2 linked regions of the Homo sapiens genome follow. The protein of the gene in region 1 interacts with the protein of each later gene in a biochemical or structural test. Each region holds a gene or a part of one and is shown in the gene's direction. Other genes may lie near its edges. The genes, in order: MEGF10 and GULP1.

Evidence for each region.
Region 2: the proteins of MEGF10 (region 1) and GULP1 form a complex in vitro, tested with the Homo sapiens proteins (one study listed by BioGRID).

Annotation. Positions count from the first base shown.
Region 1 is NC_000005.10:127,454,590-127,458,521, forward strand, and holds part of MEGF10 (multiple epidermal growth factor-like domains protein 10 isoform a precursor), read left to right. Parts: coding exon 1-21; intron 22-811; coding exon 812-1,018; intron 1,019-2,538; coding exon 2,539-2,729; 3' UTR 2,730-3,932. UniProt on the Homo sapiens protein: Membrane receptor involved in phagocytosis by macrophages and astrocytes of apoptotic cells. Receptor for C1q, an eat-me signal, that binds phosphatidylserine expressed on the surface of apoptotic cells. Cooperates with ABCA1 within the process of engulfment.
Region 2 is NC_000002.12:188,581,677-188,585,608, forward strand, and holds part of GULP1 (PTB domain-containing engulfment adapter protein 1), read left to right. Parts: intron 1-664; coding exon of another isoform or gene 665-889; intron 890-2,588; coding exon 2,589-2,727; intron 2,728-3,932. UniProt on the Homo sapiens protein: May function as an adapter protein. Required for efficient phagocytosis of apoptotic cells. Modulates cellular glycosphingolipid and cholesterol transport. May play a role in the internalization and endosomal trafficking of various LRP1 ligands, such as PSAP.

The DNA of each region.
Region 1 (3,932 bases):
ATATGGGAAAATCCTTAAAAGGTATCATGTAAATTTGAAGAAGAAATCAGAAGCACAATTAAATTTTTTTTAACCTCAAAGACTGAAATAGTTTTTAAACAAGCTAGAATGGCAAGAGAAAATGTAGAATTTTTAGTGTGGTCAGTTACTACAGCAAACACACAAACATGTGTGACTGACATCAAGAAAGTGACCAGAGGTGGTCCTTGGTAGAGCTTAAGTCTTTGGGGAACAAAAGATTCAGTTTGCTGAGGAAACACTCATATTTCATTTAAAAGAAATATGGCTTATGGGGAGACGGAAACATATAAAGGGAAATAGCCGGGACAATAAGAAAAGATCCACATGGTTACATGTTGACCAAGTTCTGCTGTTCAGGATGGGTGTGCATGATTAGATGCCTAGTACAGAGCTTTTACTAGGAGTCCTCCCAGCACAAATGCCTTCTTGTCATGATAATAGAGCCCTCTTGGTGCTCCTGGGGCCATCAACAGCTGGTTTCTTGATTGAACTTCTGTAAATTTTCTATTAATAAAACAAAACGTAATTGATTATATTCTAATGTGATCATAAAAATGAAATCAGTTAATGATATTGATGTCAGTACTCATCTTGGAGAGGAGCTAAAACTACTTTAGGGATGGGTCATTTTATAGCAGATTCTCTCCAAAACAAGTGGAAAAGGTACAGTATTATTTTCAGTGTGTAGAATTATGGAAACCTAGCTATAAAGAAAAACAGTAAAATATCACCAAGAAATGATGTTGCCAGTGACACAGCATTAGCTTTCTCTTCTCATTTCTCTTCACAGACCTGGGAAAGAATTCTGAATATAATTCAAGTAACTGCTCCCTAAGCAGTTCTGAGAACCCATATGCCACTATTAAAGACCCACCTGTACTTATCCCGAAAAGCTCAGAGTGTGGTTATGTGGAGATGAAATCGCCGGCACGAAGAGATTCCCCATATGCAGAGATCAATAACTCAACTTCAGCCAACAGGAATGTCTATGAAGTTGGTGAGTTCCCTTAACCATAGAAAGAACCGAGTGCTTAAGTTTTTAAAAACAATTTTAAAGTCTTTACGAATATAATAGTTGCAGGTCATAGAAATCTTATTGAAAATAATGGTCCGTATTTTATTTTATTTTATTTTATTTTATGTATTTTTTGAGATGGGGTCTCTCTGTCACCCAGGTGGTGTGCAGTGGCACAGTCTTGGCTCACTGCAACCTCTACCTCCCGGGCTCAAGCCATCCTCCCACTTCAGCCTCCCAAGTAGCTGGGACCACAGGCACGCACTACCACGCCCAGCTAATTTTTTGTATTTTGGGTAGAGACGGGGTTTTGTCACCATATTTTATTAATAGATGCGACCTGTGTTTTTAGCGATCATATTAATTGGTGCCAAAGGAATTTTCCAGGGAAAATATTATTTAGAAAAATTTAAGGTAAAGTTTCTTTATTTTTCACCTAATCATCCATCTTTTGTTTTGTAACCATAGTGAATATTTTGGCACACATGTGGATAGCATATGTATCATATTAGCTAATATATCTACTTAGCCGAAACAAATGGTTCAAGTGGATTAAACAGGTGATTCCATTTCCTGGTTCATTATATTAATATAATGCATTTAGCAAGATTGAAACATTTTACTTTTAAACTTGTCCAAAAGAGCAGTAATATTCTCTGATGTGAATGTGATGCAAATTAATATGAATTCAATTTAAAATTGGAGTTATTTTGATTGTCTTTTGCAGATACCACTTGGGAAATGATAAAACATTCCACCACTACTCTTGGCTAAACAATAGGGCTATATATTTTCATTTCTCTCTCTCTCTCTGTCTCTATTTCTATGTCTCTCTGAGTATTTATGATTTTAACTTTAAAATATTCTCTACTACTTGTAAATGAAGTGCCTACTTTACTACTAGTAATTTATTTTATGCCAGATACATCCCTGGGAAAAAATATACAAAATAATTTATTTTTAAAGTATTAAGACAGCTTTTTAAAATGCAAGTCAAAGTGAACTAAATTTATTTTTGGAAAGTCAGTAACAATTCTCCTTTAAACTGTCCCACAAACCTGCCACAGTAGGATGGGAACTCAAATGAGAGCCTGAGTCTTGAGTCCTAAAGTTCTGAACATGTTGAGTGTTTTCATGAACTGAATTAACGTTTGAGAATGTCAGTCTTCTCACCTGTGGAATAAGGGGCTTGGCCTACCTTATCCCCAAGGTGTTTTTCAGACCATGATTTATTTCCAGGATTCTGTATATTCCCTTAATATCTTCATCCCGATTATGTGGTCCTCCTTTTGTTCTGAACACCATTTGTGTTTGCCAGTTGATCCAACTACACAGAGTTGCCACCTGTATGTGATGATTTTTAAAATCATGTTTTTAAAACCAGCATTTCCTTATATTTTTTTAAAAGTCCCTTTGGTGTGTTTGACATTTGCAAGAAATGCCATATTCTTTTTAAAAACATTTCCTTTGCTGATAAATTAATATGTCCTTGGTTATCACAGAACCTACAGTGAGTGTTGTCCAAGGAGTATTCAGCAATAATGGGCGTCTCTCCCAGGATCCATATGACCTCCCAAAGAACAGTCACATCCCTTGTCATTATGACCTGCTGCCAGTCCGAGACAGTTCATCCTCCCCTAAGCAAGAGGACAGTGGTGGTAGCAGCAGCAACAGCAGCAGCAGCAGTGAATGACACCAAAGGACCGCTTGGTAGCCACTGGAACCCTTTCCAGAACTGCTGTTTGGTTCTTCTCCATCCTCAATTTTGCCACTTTCATGTGAATGTTAGTCAATTCGGTGGGCAATTTTTGGACATGAACCAGAAAGCTGAAAGCTGAGGCTGACACGGACTGTAGGTGCTTTTTGTTCAGGTGGATTCGAAGGAGTTAGAGATGTGATTTCCCATTGCTGTTAGTTTTAGAACTATACCCGTGAAGCATGACTTATTGTAAGATGTTGGCTGAAAGCATGAACTTGCAGAACTCCCTCGGAGACGCAGGTTGCAGTGGACATTGGGATTGTTGCTTGAAAAATTAAAATTTGAATATTTTCTCTCTCATTTGCATCATACAGCTCTACCTAGGATTGTACAGTTTACCATAAAATTTACTTCATGAAAGTGGGAATCACTGAACATGTAGAAGACAAGGAACATATTGTTAACTCCTGATTCTTAACTTTATTCAACTGGACTCAGAATTGTAGGGATAATATGAATGCAGGAGGAAACATTCTGTCAGGCGGTATGACTGGACAGACTTTGAATATACTCTAAAAGTGGACAGAAAATTTACGAAAATCTTAGATTTTGTTTAGAATGAGAAAATATACAATTAGAATTATTTTAGAAATAGTAGGAAGTATTGCAGAAGTCAATACACAAATGTGCCAGGCAGAGGTGGTTTTCTCTGTTTGACTCTCAACCAACTTCAGATCTATGACATTATTCTGATCACTGGCTCCATCATACATATTCACCACTTGAGATTCATAACATATCAATAGTTATTTCATAAATATAGAAATGAAATAATTTTATTTTTGACAGACTGGATGGAATGAGTGTGTAATGATTGATAAAGGTTGTAAATTTTAAATGCAAGATGACGCTTACGTTCTGTAAACCATTAGTAATACATGCTGTAATATAGAATTAGTGGAACATTTTGATTAATCTTTCCCTAGAAGTGACTGAAATATTTTTGTGCATATTTGAGAAAGGGAACTTTCCTTTTATTAATTGTCAATTTAGAGAAACTATGCTTAAGCTGGTCTTTTGCATTGCTAATGTGACATGTACCCAACTTTTCATTAATTTGTATTTCCATTTTTAAATTGCATATTCTATGTTTTGTAGTGTTTGGATTGTTAATGAAAAAATATTATATGTTCGTTA
Region 2 (3,932 bases), on another chromosome or scaffold:
TCCCATCACCCAAAAAGTCTTACAATTTGGAGCTCCTCATGACTATAGAAAGGGCATGATGACTAGAGTCAGACTGTTTTGAATTTTGAATCTGCTTTCTACCTCATACAAGTCACAAAGAATCTGTGGACCTTAATTCCCATGTATTTATTGTAATAAGGACATAATATCACTACTACTGATACTTCAAATAATGTTTTGAGGATTAAATATAAAATGTATGTTGTAATCCCTTTTGAAAATTCTACACAACCATAACTTTATGTACAAGAGTTTACTCCTAGTTCTGTAACTGTTCTCTCATTACTATCCTTCCTTTTTCCATTTCATTACAGAAGCCCTCTCCAAAATAAATCTTCAGGCTTTCTTCATGTTTCTCTCCATTACCTTCCTCTTAGGTCCCGATGAATGCAATATTCTATTTAAAATACCAAAAAATGTAATATTTCAGTAAAAAAAAGATCAAATTAAGCAATCCAGAATCTAAGGACTATCACATAGGAAAATCAACTCTAACTCTATGTTTTAATTTTAGAAAAGTTACTGTGAAATGATCTTATCATCTTAACAAAACACCATTTTACAAATAAATTTCAAGTATACTTTCTCCTTTCCTCCATGCCTGCCCTCTTAGGATATTTCTTTTTCTGTCATTCCTTTACAGCTGCTGCACAATATGTCTGATCATGAACAACATGTGTTTCAGAGATGCTCATCCTCTTTCTGGCGTAGTAATGGTGATTCATCTCCCTGTCTCAATATTTCTTCCATCTCTGTCACTCCTATCAACTCGCCTGATTCCAGACTATCACTGGGACTGTTAATACCACCACCTTCTAAATGTGGCTTTCCCAAGCCAGTCAGTGAGAGCAGCATCCCAAGACCTCATGTAATTTGCTAAGCAGATAATTCTTTTTTATTATCCCACTTATTTTGCTTAAATTCTGCCAAAATGTGCTATTTGTAAAGTTATCAAAAATTTAGATGTATCTTGAGTCAATGTGATGTGATCTGGAGCCTTTGTGTGCCATTGTTGTTTTCTTTGATTACCTGATACCAGAAAGTTTCAAGTAGAGGGTGGTGACAGTGTAGAAATTTACATACAGATACTTCAAAGGATCTATCAGATGTTGCAGTTGGGAAATTAGATCATTGGTAAGAGCAATTTCAGCAGAGTTCAGTGCAAAAAGAACAAATCTAGATTGATAAGAGTTAAAGATAGAATGAAGTAAATCTTAGGACAGAAAGTGTAGTATCTCTTTCAAGGAGCTTAGCCTTGAAGGAAAAAGAAAAACAGAATAGAGGCTGGAAGATTAAAGAGGGACAGAGTAAATAAATTTTTGATTGATTTGTTTTGCTTTTAATGACAGCCAAGATTTTAGAATTTTTGTATCGTGAAAAAGAGTAGAGATATAGAAGTGAGAGGGGATACAGGAATGGGATAATTAGGGGAATGGTATTGCTGAGTAACAGTAAAGGGGTGAGGGGATACAATAAACAAATTGTTAAAGAAAGGGGGATGACAGCAATTTTCCTGCATGAAAAATAATGTACTAGCAATTATTTTAGCTGAATAGCAAACCCATCATTCTCTACACACAATAAGCCTGATTTTTTCATCACCTGCACTACCTGTGAATCAGAAAATTAAACGTATTCTGAGAATTCTAATTTTAATATGAACTACTGGAAGCAATCTCTGTCCAAGTTCTCACAGGAAAAGCAAATTTTTCGCCACTATTCCCCCAAAATGGAAATTCTCTTTTATCCCTGATCAAATCAGATGGTTTTCAAAGGAGATTATACATATATACATATTGTTCCCTGTTTTACAAAGTGATAAATGTCTAATTTTGATATTACTTCTTGGCTACATTTTCATGAGATTTTCATTTATCTTTCCCTATATGTGTTCAGTCCTGGCCCAGACTGTATCAGAAAACTCAATGATTTGGGCAGTACACTGGCGATTATTAATTTAGTTTATAAGATTGCTATTTATTACAGAAAACTTGATGAAATCTTTCAGGAGTAAAATGTACTGCAATGAATATCAGTTGGTTCCCATTGTTGATATAAATACAAACTAAAATATACTCTACTTTTGAGAATGCAAAAAAAATCAATTGCATTTGAATGTTTATATTTAAGAAGGCAGGTCACTTATGTCTAATTATTCCAGTTTAAAATGTAATCTTATGCAGCGTATCTTACTGAAATCATATTTTTACATGAATAGTTTCTAATATATCTAATTCTCTGTTACAAGTAGCAGTCATTTCTATATATCCCAAAAATTCACTGTATCTTTTATATTCATCTGGAATAATATTGTCACCGTTTTTGCCATCATCTTTGAGAGCATTTTTACAGAAATTTTCTATTGCTTTCTTCTAAATGAGCATTTATCATAATTAGTGGAACCATATGAAATTGCGAATACTTAACTATTTTTGGTCTACAAAATGGCAAATTCTTATGATGCAACTGAAATTGTTGTTTACATATATTTTATATGCATATGAAATATTTAGCATTACAATGTGTCTATATGAAATATTACCCTAATTCATTTATTTTCATTGCAGGCAGGCAGTATGACACCTAAGTCGCCCTCCACTGACATCTTTGATATGATTCCATTTTCTCCAATATCACACCAGTCTTCGATGCCTACTCGCAATGGCACACAGCCACCTCCAGTACCTAGTAGATCTACTGAGATTAGTAAGCTTTCTCAACAAATCAAAGTTTCTTGTTATAGTTGCATACATTTTAAATATATAATTAAGACTTTGTGGGAAATTACATATCTTAACAACCTTACTTACAATTTTAATTATTAAAGTATTATTTTTATATTTGTATAAATTTCCATTAATTCTATTTTACTTTATAATTCAGACTACACTACTAATGACATCTCTGCTTGCAACTTTTACCTATTGTGTGAACAATTATGTTTTGGTGTATTACTTCATATTTAATTATATATCACTGTTTTGGGTTATATTTTTAATATTTTACTTTAACTTTTAAAAATAACTGGTGGTAATTAAATTGATCATTTTTTACATGTTTAATAGAGCTGGTTAAAATATTTTTGTTATCATAGGGTTTATGGACTTTTTTGTTAAAAAATATATAAATTATATCATGATTTCTTAACCTTTTGTAAGGGTTCTTTCCTATCTAAAATGCTATAAATTCATTGCTTTTCTGTTTTATCTTTTATATATCTGGAAGGAATATTAAAGTCTCTTTTTGATGAATTAGAAAACACCTATAAGCCTGTAAAATAAAAAGCAAGTTAGTTACTTGTAAAATACAATGAGCATACAGGCATTGGGTGAACGTTTCCATTCCAAATTGGAGAAATTGGCAAAGCGAAGGAGCCACAGGCCCCTTGCAAGTTTGAAACCCGGTGGGGCAGTCATTAAATCTTAAAGCTCCAAAATTATCTCATTTTACTCCATGTGTCACATCCAGGGCATGCTAATGCAAGGGATGGACCCCAAGGCCTTGGGCAGCTCCACCTCTGTGGCTCTGCAGGGTACAGCCCCCATAGCTGTTTTCACAGGCTGGCATTGAGTGACAGGCACACAGTGCAAGCTGTTGGTGGATCTACCATTCGGGGGTCTGAAAGACAGTGGCCCTCTTCTCACAGCTCCACTAGGCAGTGCCCCAGTGGGGACTCTGTGTGGGGGCTTTAACCCTACATTTCTCCTCTGCATTGCCCTAGTAGAGGTTCTCCATGAGGGCTCTGCTCCTGCCACAGACTTCTGCCTGAACATTCAGGCGTTTCCATACATCCTCCGAAATCTAGGCAGAGGCTCCCAAAGCTCAACTCTTGTCTTCTGTGCACCTGCAGGCCCAACACCACAGGGAAGCCACCAAGGCTTAGGGCTTTTACCCCATGAAGCAATGGCTTG